Linked DNA regions of Homo sapiens: region 2 is linked to region 1. Evidence: fine-mapped expression QTL. Tissue or cell type: whole blood. Region 1 holds a variant in brackets; the other region holds the start of a gene. All regions are shown on one strand. Distances are between the middles of the regions. Region 1 overlaps LRRC8D (leucine rich repeat containing 8 VRAC subunit D). Region 2 holds the start of LRRC8D (leucine rich repeat containing 8 VRAC subunit D).

Region 1 (5,382 bases):
TCAGCAATTCAAAAATTATAAAGAGGAGGCAATGATAACAAAAAGTTCTGTTCAAGTTGTTTTCAAAATAATCTGAATGAGTCATTTCTATAATCTATTGACTTCCTTCAACAGTCTGACACTTGGCTGCATGCTGAAAACCTTAAAAATTTTCCATATCTCTAAGAACTAAAATTTACAAACATATTCCTGTTCCTGATTCTGCCAATAGTTGAATTAGATATATATTTGGAGTTGATGTCAGTAATTCTGAAATGGTAACATCATCTTTGAATGAACAGGACATTTACAGCTCTAACAAAAAAGTTGTAAGTCATTAAAATCATTAAAATTGTAACTAAAGAACTATTCACTGGCAGATTTACGATCTGATAAGTTCTGATAGTCCTGAGCTAGCAAGCAAGGCTTTCGAGTTCATAATGTGCTTCTGAATAACTTATTTATGCAAATAAGTATTCTCTACATTACTACTATCAGTCAAAAGACTCATATGCCTTAAGTACATATTTGGACCCAATGGAACAACTTCATATTTTAAAAAATCAACATAAGTGATTTAGTGTTGGCAAAAAAGCATTCATCTTATTAATTTAAATTTCAAAGGTTTTAATATATTATTTGTATTTGCGATTTTAAAATGTTTAATAGTTTTATAAAAACTATAAGCACAGAAAGTATATATATATATATATATATATATATATAATTTCATGTTTATACATATTTAGTACAATTAAGCAAAGTAATCAACAAGAATGGTTTTTGAAAACTCCCTTTAAAGGAATGAAATTCATTCACAGGTTGTGTGCTAAGCACTACTACAAGTAATAATAAGGGAATGATCTGGACCACATTCATTCAAAAACACGGGAGATCCTACTGTGTGCTGGGTATTGGGATACAGTGGGAAACAAGATAGACATATTTATGCCCTTATGGGGCTTGAAATCTATTAGAAAAGGCAAATCAATGTAATAAGTGAAATGTTGGAGATGTAAAATGTTCTATGGAAACAGCAAGGGGACCTAATCCAGTTTAGGGGTTAGACAGCTTCTGGAAGGACATTAAAACCAAAAGAAGACACAGGAGTTACCCAAACAAAAGTGAAGGAGCAGAAGGGGAAAAAGTGTGCTAGACATCAGACATACCCTGTAGTCAAAGCTTATTGTCATGAAAACTTAGCCAATAAGAAGTACAGGAAGAAGTTTTTTGTGTCTGGAAGATGGTGAGGGGTCGGGGGTAGGTAAAGCTAGTACTCTAGACTAGAGATGGAGGCTGAGGTTTCCTGCGGCAAGGTCTTGATGTCTTAAGGACTCTGGCTTTTAACTCCTTATTAAGGAGTTCCAAGGATAATGAGAATTCACTGGAGGGTGTTAAGGAGGTCACTGACATAAGGTTCCAATGTATAGAGAGCACTGGAGTTCAGAGGCAGCTGCAGCAGTCCAGGCAAAACATGATGGAGGCCGCAACTGGAGCTGTGGACTGCAGCAGCCCACAGCACAGTTAAGAGATACCAGATAAAATTTAAGATAGAATTGAGAGGGCTTGGCACTTCATTGCATCTGGGAGTTAAATGAGAAGGATACATCATGGAAAGTGTTCAAATGGTAACTGGTGGATAGTGGTGTCTTTCATCAGATGAAGGAAGAATTACAACTCCTTGTAAACTGAGGACCACCTGCATTCAAAGATGGCTTTGTACAAGTTTGAAAAAGTGTTTTTGTTTTTCTTGCAATTTCTTACCTCTGCATCTATGTTGAACAGTTTTTTCAAAACAAAAAAACAAAAATGCTACTGACTTGCATAATCACTCACACCCAGAGGCGGCAATATTCAAAACAAGTCTATGTTCTTTTTGGAAAGTCTTGGTTCAAAGACAAAAAACAGAACAGACCAATCTTTTGATCCTCACTATTGACATGGTGCCTCAATGCAAACCCAAGTACTGGTTAAGACCTTTCTTTGATGGGACAATGGGGCAAGAGCTCAACATAGCAGGCATTTAGTTTTAAGAGGTTCCAGCTCTGCACTTTATGCCATAACAACACGGATTTAAATATCAAAAGAACCAGACTCAAGTTCAAGTGACCAATGCACCTGGCAGAATTTAACCCAGCATAAAACCTCTCCATGCAAATTCACAATTTTCTAAGAACAAACAACCCTGGGAAATTTTTCCCATGACCCACTCCCTCATGAACATTTTTAATATTTCAAAAGTACTTAAAAACCGGAACAAAGCAATTTTAAAATCTCAAAGGGTCAGAGCAACTGGAATTAGTTTAAGAATGCATGATACATGAAAGACCAAGGCTTTATAAACAGGGCATCTTCTTTCTTCACACCAAAGCACAAGAAAACAAAGGAAGAACTAAA[T/CT]AACACAGACCACAGAAAATATCACATGAAAGGAAATTCATGTCTGGCCTACCCTGCAACAGAAAAATCTCAAATAAACAGGCTTGGTTTCCATGAGCTCTCTGAAAGCTAGGAGGAAAAAAAAAAGAAGCATAATCATTTTCAGCATCTTGAAAGTGAGGGACATAAGTTTATTAATATTCCAGGTTATTAGGATCACTAAGGAGGCAAAAAGAAACTGAGGTTCCCAGGCCGCCTCTTCCTGTCTCTGCTTCAACACACAGCTCAGCCCATTACCCACTTGTGTACTGCGTGATCTACATTTTGGGTCTGCCTCTGCCTCTTCCTCCAGGGGCCACAGACCAGAAGACTACATGGGCAGCCCTTTATTTTATCCAACCAATGCTTGTGCTGCACTTGCTGTGTGCCAGTCACTGTTCTAAATGCTTCACAAATAAGAGCCCATGTAATCCTCATAACAACTATATAAGGCAGGCACTATTATTATTCTTGTTTTACATACAGGGAACTGAGGCATGAAAAGGCTATAAAACTTGCCCAAAGTCAAATGGCTAGTGAGGGGATACAGCTATCTGAATCCACTCTTCATCAACTGACTAGGGAACTACAAAGGTCATTTTTAATTCTCCTTATTTCCTATATTTTCTTTATATGAGAATTTATTACTTTTATAATAACAAAGAACTAAAAGCCTTTTTATTTTGAAACAGCAAACCAAAAAATAAATAAAAACAAGGCCTTGAATATCTCATCCATGAAATCACGGGAGAAAACACCCTTCCTGCTGGAAGCCAAGGGGTCAGGCCAGATGATCTTCCTTGGATCATTTGTTACAGTAAAATCTTCAGTTCCACAGCCTGTTCCCCCAATACTCAGGTAGTAAGGGAAGCAGGAAATGTAAAAAAAAGACAGCAATTATGAACATGTGCTCTGGAAAACTCACCTGGGATCCAGTTCCAGTTTATAAGCTGTATAACCTGGAACAAGTTGTTTAAGCATTTCAAGCCTCTTTTTATCATCTGACAAAAATGGATACAGTTATACCCATCTCCTAGAGTTAACTCACAGAAAGACTGAAAAACATAAATACATCCAGCACAGAGAAGAAATACAAAAAGTGCTAAACACAGGAGAACTAAACTGTCCAAAGACTGGCCTACTTCAATTATTCCTAACCTAGAACAACCAAATAAACCAAAAATTTCATAACATCATTTACCATGGACAAAAGACGGATCTCTTATGAAGAACAATAACTTTTTCATTAACAACTTAGTAAGCAGTATGGGCTAACAGGGTATATATAGCCTTCTTTGAGCTACAATGAAATGACTCCCAGGTCCAGAGGCTGGAGTCAGGGTGGTACACTAGATGTAAGAAAATAACAACAAAATTAGGGCCCACATCTCCCTGACTTGCCTTTTTTAGTATTAAGAGTTATGTTTCAAGGAAAAAGTCACTTCACTCTTCTGATCTCCATTTTATTATTAATAGAAGAAAATCGCTGCATAGAGTGACCTGAAAGCCTCCTTCTAGCTTTAACAATCTAACGGTATAACCAGCTCTTTTAGTCATGAAGTGTGTACGAATGAGATTCTACCACTTTTCTAAATGATATCACTCTGCCAAGCAACTGGGTCTTCATACACTTTGTAATCAATAACTGTTTTATGTTGCCCCTTTAGTATCTATAGCTATTCCCCAAAGTTATGTTACATGTTCCCCTTAAAGAGGATGAATCATTCTGGCCCTTCAGGATCTGATATTCTTCTTCTCTGTCAAATACAATTATTTGTAATTAGAAGCCTGGCTCCAAAAACAGAAACTTAGATGAAGAAAAAATAAATGTTACCAGCATAGATTTCTACATCCATAAGTCCCTGTACAAAACCTTTTTCTCCATCTATATCCAACTGCTATCTGATGCTTTCATGGAGCAGAACTTGTTATAGTACACAACACAGGAAAGCTAAAGTAGCAATGAATCTTGGCTTTGTAAAAGTCTTCAGGGATGCCCATATGCCAAGTCCAAAGGATACAGAGGACCAATACCTCTTCGCTGACTTGTCCAGATATGTGACATGGACAGTGATGCTACCAAAGGAGCTCAGGGAATCCCTGGCACCACTAGTAGGCCCTAAGGCACAGGTATTAATAAAGAAGAGGACAATACAAGGTGAAAAAACCATTAATGGCTCTACAATGAATGAACTGGAGAGTAAGAAAAGAAGAAAGAAAGGAAAAAAGGCACAGAATGAAAAACTATAGAATCACAAAGTCAGTGGGAAGGAATAACTAAACCAAGTGCCTTATGTATGTTAAAGTCACATGATAATCCTCTTATCATTTTGACCTCATTTTAAAGAGGGGGAAACTGAGGCTTAGTGAATTTAGCTTACTTTCCTAGGGTCACACAGTTAGCAGGGGACAGAGGTGGTATTTAAGCATGGGCTTTTCTAGCACAAAGCTTGTGACTGAATGGTATGTACACACTGTGTAACCTTAGAGAGCATCTCTGCCCCACCCTCCCATGAAGTTTCAAATCTCTCTACTCCCTTGGCCAAGGATGGACAGACTCTCAAAAGTGCCCTTGATGCTAAGGCCCTGGACAGCACCCAGCAATTCAGCCCAGCTCTGCATGGCTTTGAAGTTGATTTGTTCCTTGCATTAACCTAAAGTATGTCTCCCTGCAACTTCTACCTATCTTTATCCCAGAAGATAATCAGATCTGCAGCAAATGAGGTTTCCTATAACAGCCCTTCTAAGTAACTTTAAAAGGGGGAATGGAGAACGTTAAAAAGAATTTCAAGGAAAATCTTAAAAATACGTACAAAATGCGTCTGTGTGTGTATATATATATATATATATATATATTTTTTTTTTTTTTTTTTTTTTTTTTTTTTGAGATAGAGTCTTGCTCTGTTGCCAGGCTGGAGTGCAGTGGCGTGATCTCGGCTCACTGCAACCTCCACCTCCCAGGTTCAAGTGATTCTCCTGCCTCAGACT
Region 2 (5,382 bases), 42 kb after region 1:
AGAATGTCAAACACCAGCTCCAATTAAAAATAACTGAAATCTCTTACAAGCTACCACTTCAACAACATAATAATCATGATTACAAAGTTTTGACAAACTTTTGACTTTAATAGCTATTTTGTCTACAGTACTGAGAACAGAATCGAGTCTAATTTCCAAACTATAGCTACCAAAACAATTTAACTATTTGGACATGACAAACACATCAGAATTTTCTAAAATTAATTTTTAAAAATGCTGCATAATATAAAAATTAAGGGAAAAGGGGCCTAGTTTTTTTCTTTTTTCTTTCCATTAAACTTTAGCGATTTTGAGAAAAAAAGGGCCAAGTTTTGACCATGTTTTTTAAATGCTGGAAAACACAGCAGGGAGAAAATGATATGAATATGGCTCAATACTTTAAGTGTTGCATCATATGCTACTCCACATGGTAATGGAAGGCTGGGTCATCTAAGGACAGTTTCCTCTCCAACCTTCTAATCTGTTAGGTTTTAATCAACACGCACACATACACTCTCAATAAAAACGAGACAAATCTAACATAGTGTTCAAATATATAAATAAACTGTGCCAATTCAAGATTTTGGAATTTTTCCCTGGCTCCATAGATTACCTAATCATTTTATGGGGGGCTCCATAAGTAACCTACAGAGACCAAACACCCCAAATCAACTTTTCGTGACCCCTGTTTTAACCACCTAATTTTCATCTCAGATTCCTCCCCATCTTGCACTTGGATTTTAACAGGGATTTAGTTAGTTGGTGTCAAGACAGATGAAGCAAGAACCCCAACTCTCGCCTAGCTGACAGTAGGTGTTTGGTCACTATTTTTGGACTGCAAAAATAAATGCTGCCTGAGGACCCCATTTACAGGATATGGTGCAGGGTTCTTCCCACAGGTCTGTAAGAAGCAGAGGTCCCAGATGCTATGGCGAGGAAGGTCTGATCACTCTCATTCTTGGCACTGGGAGGGGCCCCTTATTTGTTTATAAGGTAGACAGCCCTCATCATTACTGCAAACGGGGATTCCCTGCCTGTCCAGACTCTTCCAAAGTCCGGTACAAACCACGTAATAGGTGCTCAATAAACGCTGCCTGTACGGAATTTTACTATCAAAGCTGCCAAGGAAAGTTTCCAGAAATCAGCTCTTCCAAAATATGTCCTCAGAGTTTTCTTTGTCCAACAAAAAAATATTTTTGAAGATCCAAGAGCAGGAAATCTGCGAGGCAACGAGGAGCCAAATATAAGCCAAGCGGCTCCAGCTGGGCCCCACATTCCGCTAGGACTCCCCAGTACCTATTCCCCATCTCTCCGCCTACATCCTGAGTGCGCCCTCCCTCTCATCTCGGCTGTTTCCTTCCCACAACCCTACCTCCATACTTTCGGCCACACACACCCCAAGTGCGTGCTCCTGGAACCTCACAGCCCACCTCTCCCTCTCCAGCAAGGACCTACCTCTCTTCCCCTCGACCTGCAGCAGTTCTTCTTCACTGCAGCTGGCTTTTTAAGAAATCAAAAAATCTCATTTATCTGCAAGGGATACCCCCTAGTAAAGGGTGACGGAAAGGAGAAGGCCCCTATCAACCCTCCAGTAACTGGAGGTGCTGGTCCTCCCGGCAACCACCCCCAATTCTCCTCCTTTTCAAGCCCCTGGACAGGATTTGAGCAGAAGTCCCGCTCCCAAGAGCCCACGCCTCCAAACAAGCTAGAAGCGGATTATACCGGTACCCAACCCGGAGACGGCCCGCGGACGGCTGGGTGCACCTGCGGGCCCCCAGCTCCCTCCCACAGGCGCGGGGGGCGGGGCGCGGGCCTTCACCTCCCCGCCCCCGCCCGCCGGGCTCCCAGCGCAGCCCACCCTGCACAGGAAGGAAGCGGAGGGGAGGCGATTCTGGAGAAGTTAAAGGGCTCACCTTTGGACGCCGGGCCAGCAAGGCCAGACACCAAACACCCACCTCCGGGAGGAACCAGCAGAGCCGAAACCGGCTCTCCCCGCCTTTCCGATAGGGCGGAGGGAGGTGAGAGAAGGGAGCGCGCGCGAGGGGTTCAGGAGCCAGGAAGCCGCACTCCCCTCCCGCAGGGCCGGCCGCCCGGGGCCGAAGCGGCCGACGCTCAGACTGCAGAAAGCGGAACAATCTCCCAGGCCCTGGCGGCAGCAAACGGGAGCCCACTCCGCTCGCCGCCACCTCCTCCCGACCCCCGGACGTCCCCGAATGAGTTCCCGGCCGCAACCGCAGCTCGGGCCGCGGCGCCTGCGCCAGGGTTGCGCGCTCCGGCTCGGCGCGGCTCCACCTGCGCGTCGCCTTCCCTCGCAGCCCCCGGCCCCTGCCGGGAGAGGTGCGCACCAACCTTGGGGTGCAGCTCGGCCGCCAAGCCACGGCTTATGCTGAGGCCGGAGGTGGCGGCATCACCCGCGGCGGGCGGCGGCTGCACCGGGACGCGCCGGGGCGGCGAAGGCGCGCTGCACCCTGGACCCTGCTCCCGCGGCCCCGCCCGCGGCTGCCACCTCGAAGCGCGGCGGAGGAGCCGGGGCACCACGGGCGGCGGCAGCGGCAGCGGCAGCAGCGGCGACGGGAGCAGCAGCACATGACTCTGTAACGAGGGGAATTAGACAAAGCGTAACATGGACTCCGGGCCCGTGCAGGCGCTGCAGCTCTGGGACCAACCGCAGCCGGCGAGTGCCGCGACTGGCCCGGCCGCAGCCAATGGGGCGGGCCCGGGCCTCCATGTGATTGCGAGCGCTTTCTCCGGTGGCCCTGCAGCGCCTGACCGGACGGGGTCTGTGTGGCGAGGGAGGGGACCCGGGGTTGGAGACTGGCGGCGAGCGACTGCTAGATGCGGAGCAGGTGCTTGGGAGGGGAAGAACGGCAGCCTACATAACCATCGCCGTAATGCTCTCGCAAGCGTCCACCTGGGCAGGGCTCGGTGCCGGGCAGGCGCAGCTGCCAGTTAGCTGCGAGGCATGGTCAGGAGCCTTCACCCGTCCTGGGCGAAGGAGGCTGTCCCGTCGACTAAAACTCTGATATTAAGACTTGGCGCTGGGGGTGGGGAGTTGAATTACGTTAAAAAGTCACTTAAGTGCCTTCCAACTCTAAGGAGAAGTACTTATCTGAGCTTTGGGGCACACACAACTACTACTTGGCATGGAGAGTTTCTCAGCTTCATGTGTTCCGTCTGTTATTGAAGCTGTATTGGAAAGTCGGTTCTTGTTTTTATCTGAGCCCGCCGTTTTCATCCCATTCTTTTCGTCAAAAATATGTTACATCTGAAAGAGGCAGATGAAAAGATTATTCTATGCTAAGAGGGTTTTGCAGCCCGATAATGTCACCGTTTTTTGTTGTTGTTGTTGTAGGATCGGGGTTCATTTGCAGTCTTTTTTGTGGGTGAGCAGAGGCAGGGGCCAATAAATAAATTAAGGCGGGATATTTGGAGTTATTTGGTTGTAATAAAATATGTGGTTCAACCCAGTGCTTTCATATCTTCTTTTATCTGAATCCATGTGTTTCTGTAAACCATCGGAAGTCTAATCTGTCTTCTACCAATATCTCTCCATGTCAGCAAATGTTCAATCAACGTTTACCCAGCATCTAAATATTCTTAATAAGCATGCTGCACAAATGTTACAGGTACTCAGGAAGGTGTCGGTTCAGAGACAGTGAGACATTAAAGAGAATGATTGTCCAGGGTTTCAGAAAAGGATTCAGAGAGGAGCTGATAGAATTGACCCTTGGATGGTGAGCACTTGGCCCTCAGGCATTGGACGTGAAGAAGAGCAGCCCAAACAGGAACATGAACAGAGAGGTCCAGAATACACTCAAGGGACTGCCCGAGACCCGTTACAAGATGCCACCAGATTCTGAGCCCTCGGCCCTTTTGCTCTCACTTTCCTTCCCCGACCCTCCTTGCCAGCAGCCACTCCTGTTCCACACACTGCCAAGAAGGAGGTGTATGGGCAGGGAGTGTGTGTAAGTGATCTAATCAGTGTCAGATTTGCTGATCTAAGAGATGAGAGGTCTTTTAAAACTTAACAACTAGTGGTGTGATATTTTTATTGAAAACAGCCCACTATTATAATGAATATGGAATGTTTTGCTGTTTGTAAAAAAAAAAAAAAATTATAGGCCGGGTGCAGTGGCTCACGCCTGTAGTCCCGGTACCTTGGGAGGCCGAGGCAAGAGGATCACGAGGTCAGGAGTTAGAGACCAGCCTGACCAACATGGTGAAAACCCGTCTCTACTAAAGACACAAAAATTATCTGGGCATGTTGGCACGCACCTGTAATCCAAGCTACTCAGGAGCCTGAGGCAGGAGAATCGCTTGAACCTGGGAGGCGGAGGTTGCAGTGAGCTGAGATGGTGCCACCACACTCCAGCCTGGGCGACAGAGTGAGACTCCATCTCAAAACCAAAAAACCAAAAAAACCAATCTTCTGTACTTTGTTCTTTTGATCTTCCCTGGGTTTTAAATTGTGATTCTAGACTTGAAAAACATGATTTTAAGATTGGTATAAATCGAGAAAAGAAAAAAGTGATATTCAGAAAACAGTCAAATGTGGAGAAATAGACACTCACACACTGTAAAAGTAAGAGGAAATTGGACAAACCCCTTTGGAGGACAATTTGGAAATTTTTGATAAATAGGTGTGTTCCCTTTGAATAGGTAAGTCCATGTCTAAGAGTTTGTGCTTTAAGCATATTTGTGCAAAAATTATGTCAGAAATATTTACACATGTACAAAAATATATATATACGTGTCTTATTGCAACATTGTTTGTAATAGTGGGAACATGTAATGGTGTAAAAATCAAATAATAAAGTCCCAGTAGGAAACTGTTTAAGCAAATTTTGCTAGATCTGTAGAAGGAAACCATAAGCAGCCATTAACAAAAATAAGCTAGATCTATTTGTACCTACATGGAAGGATGTCCAAAATCTATAAGTGAAAAAAAAGGAGGCTGCAGAACAATATGAATAGTATGATTCCATTTTTTTGTACTTTTTTGCATTAAGATATACATGTTATTAAATGTATGCTTCAGAAGAAGTCTGGAAGCATATATAACAAGCTGTTAATGGTGATTATCTCTGGGTGTGGGATTACTAGGGCCTTTCATCAAGTTCTGTATGTTTGAATTGTTTTTATATTGAGCACATATTACTCTGATAATCAGAATAATAATTTTAAAAATTTAAAGGATTGTTTTAGAGTATATTCAGGCTATTATAACAAAATACCATAAGCTGGGTGGCTTATAAGCAACAGAAATTGGCTGGGCATGGTGGCTTATGCCTGTAATCCCAGCACTTTGGGAGACCTAGGCTGGAGGATCACCTGAGGTCAGGAGTTCGAGACCAGCCTGGCCAACATGGTGGAACCCTGTCT

Evidence for each region. PIP is the estimated chance that this variant, and not a neighbour inherited with it, causes the effect.
Region 2: LRRC8D starts here. The variant in region 1 is fine-mapped to the expression of LRRC8D in whole blood (TOPMed, PIP above 0.99). The same link has a PIP of 0.9 or more in T cells.

The regions. Positions count from the first base shown.
Region 1 is chr1:89,860,654-89,866,035 of GRCh38, reverse strand. The region is part of intron 2 of LRRC8D (leucine rich repeat containing 8 VRAC subunit D); the gene reads right to left. Among named protein-coding and RNA genes, the nearest start is that of LRRC8D-DT, 42 kb to the right of the region's middle. The variant T/CT (reference allele first, on the strand shown) is at 2,377.
Region 2 is chr1:89,818,259-89,823,640 of GRCh38, reverse strand. It overlaps LRRC8D (leucine rich repeat containing 8 VRAC subunit D), which reads right to left and starts at 2,609. Exons shown (of 3, transcript NM_001134479.2): 1 at 2,350-2,609. It overlaps LRRC8D-DT (LRRC8D divergent transcript), which reads left to right and starts at 1,847. Exons shown (of 1, transcript NR_185885.1): 1 at 1,847-3,467. RefSeq lists silencers at 1,640-1,859, 1,731-1,940, 2,031-2,130, 2,231-2,580, 3,021-3,080.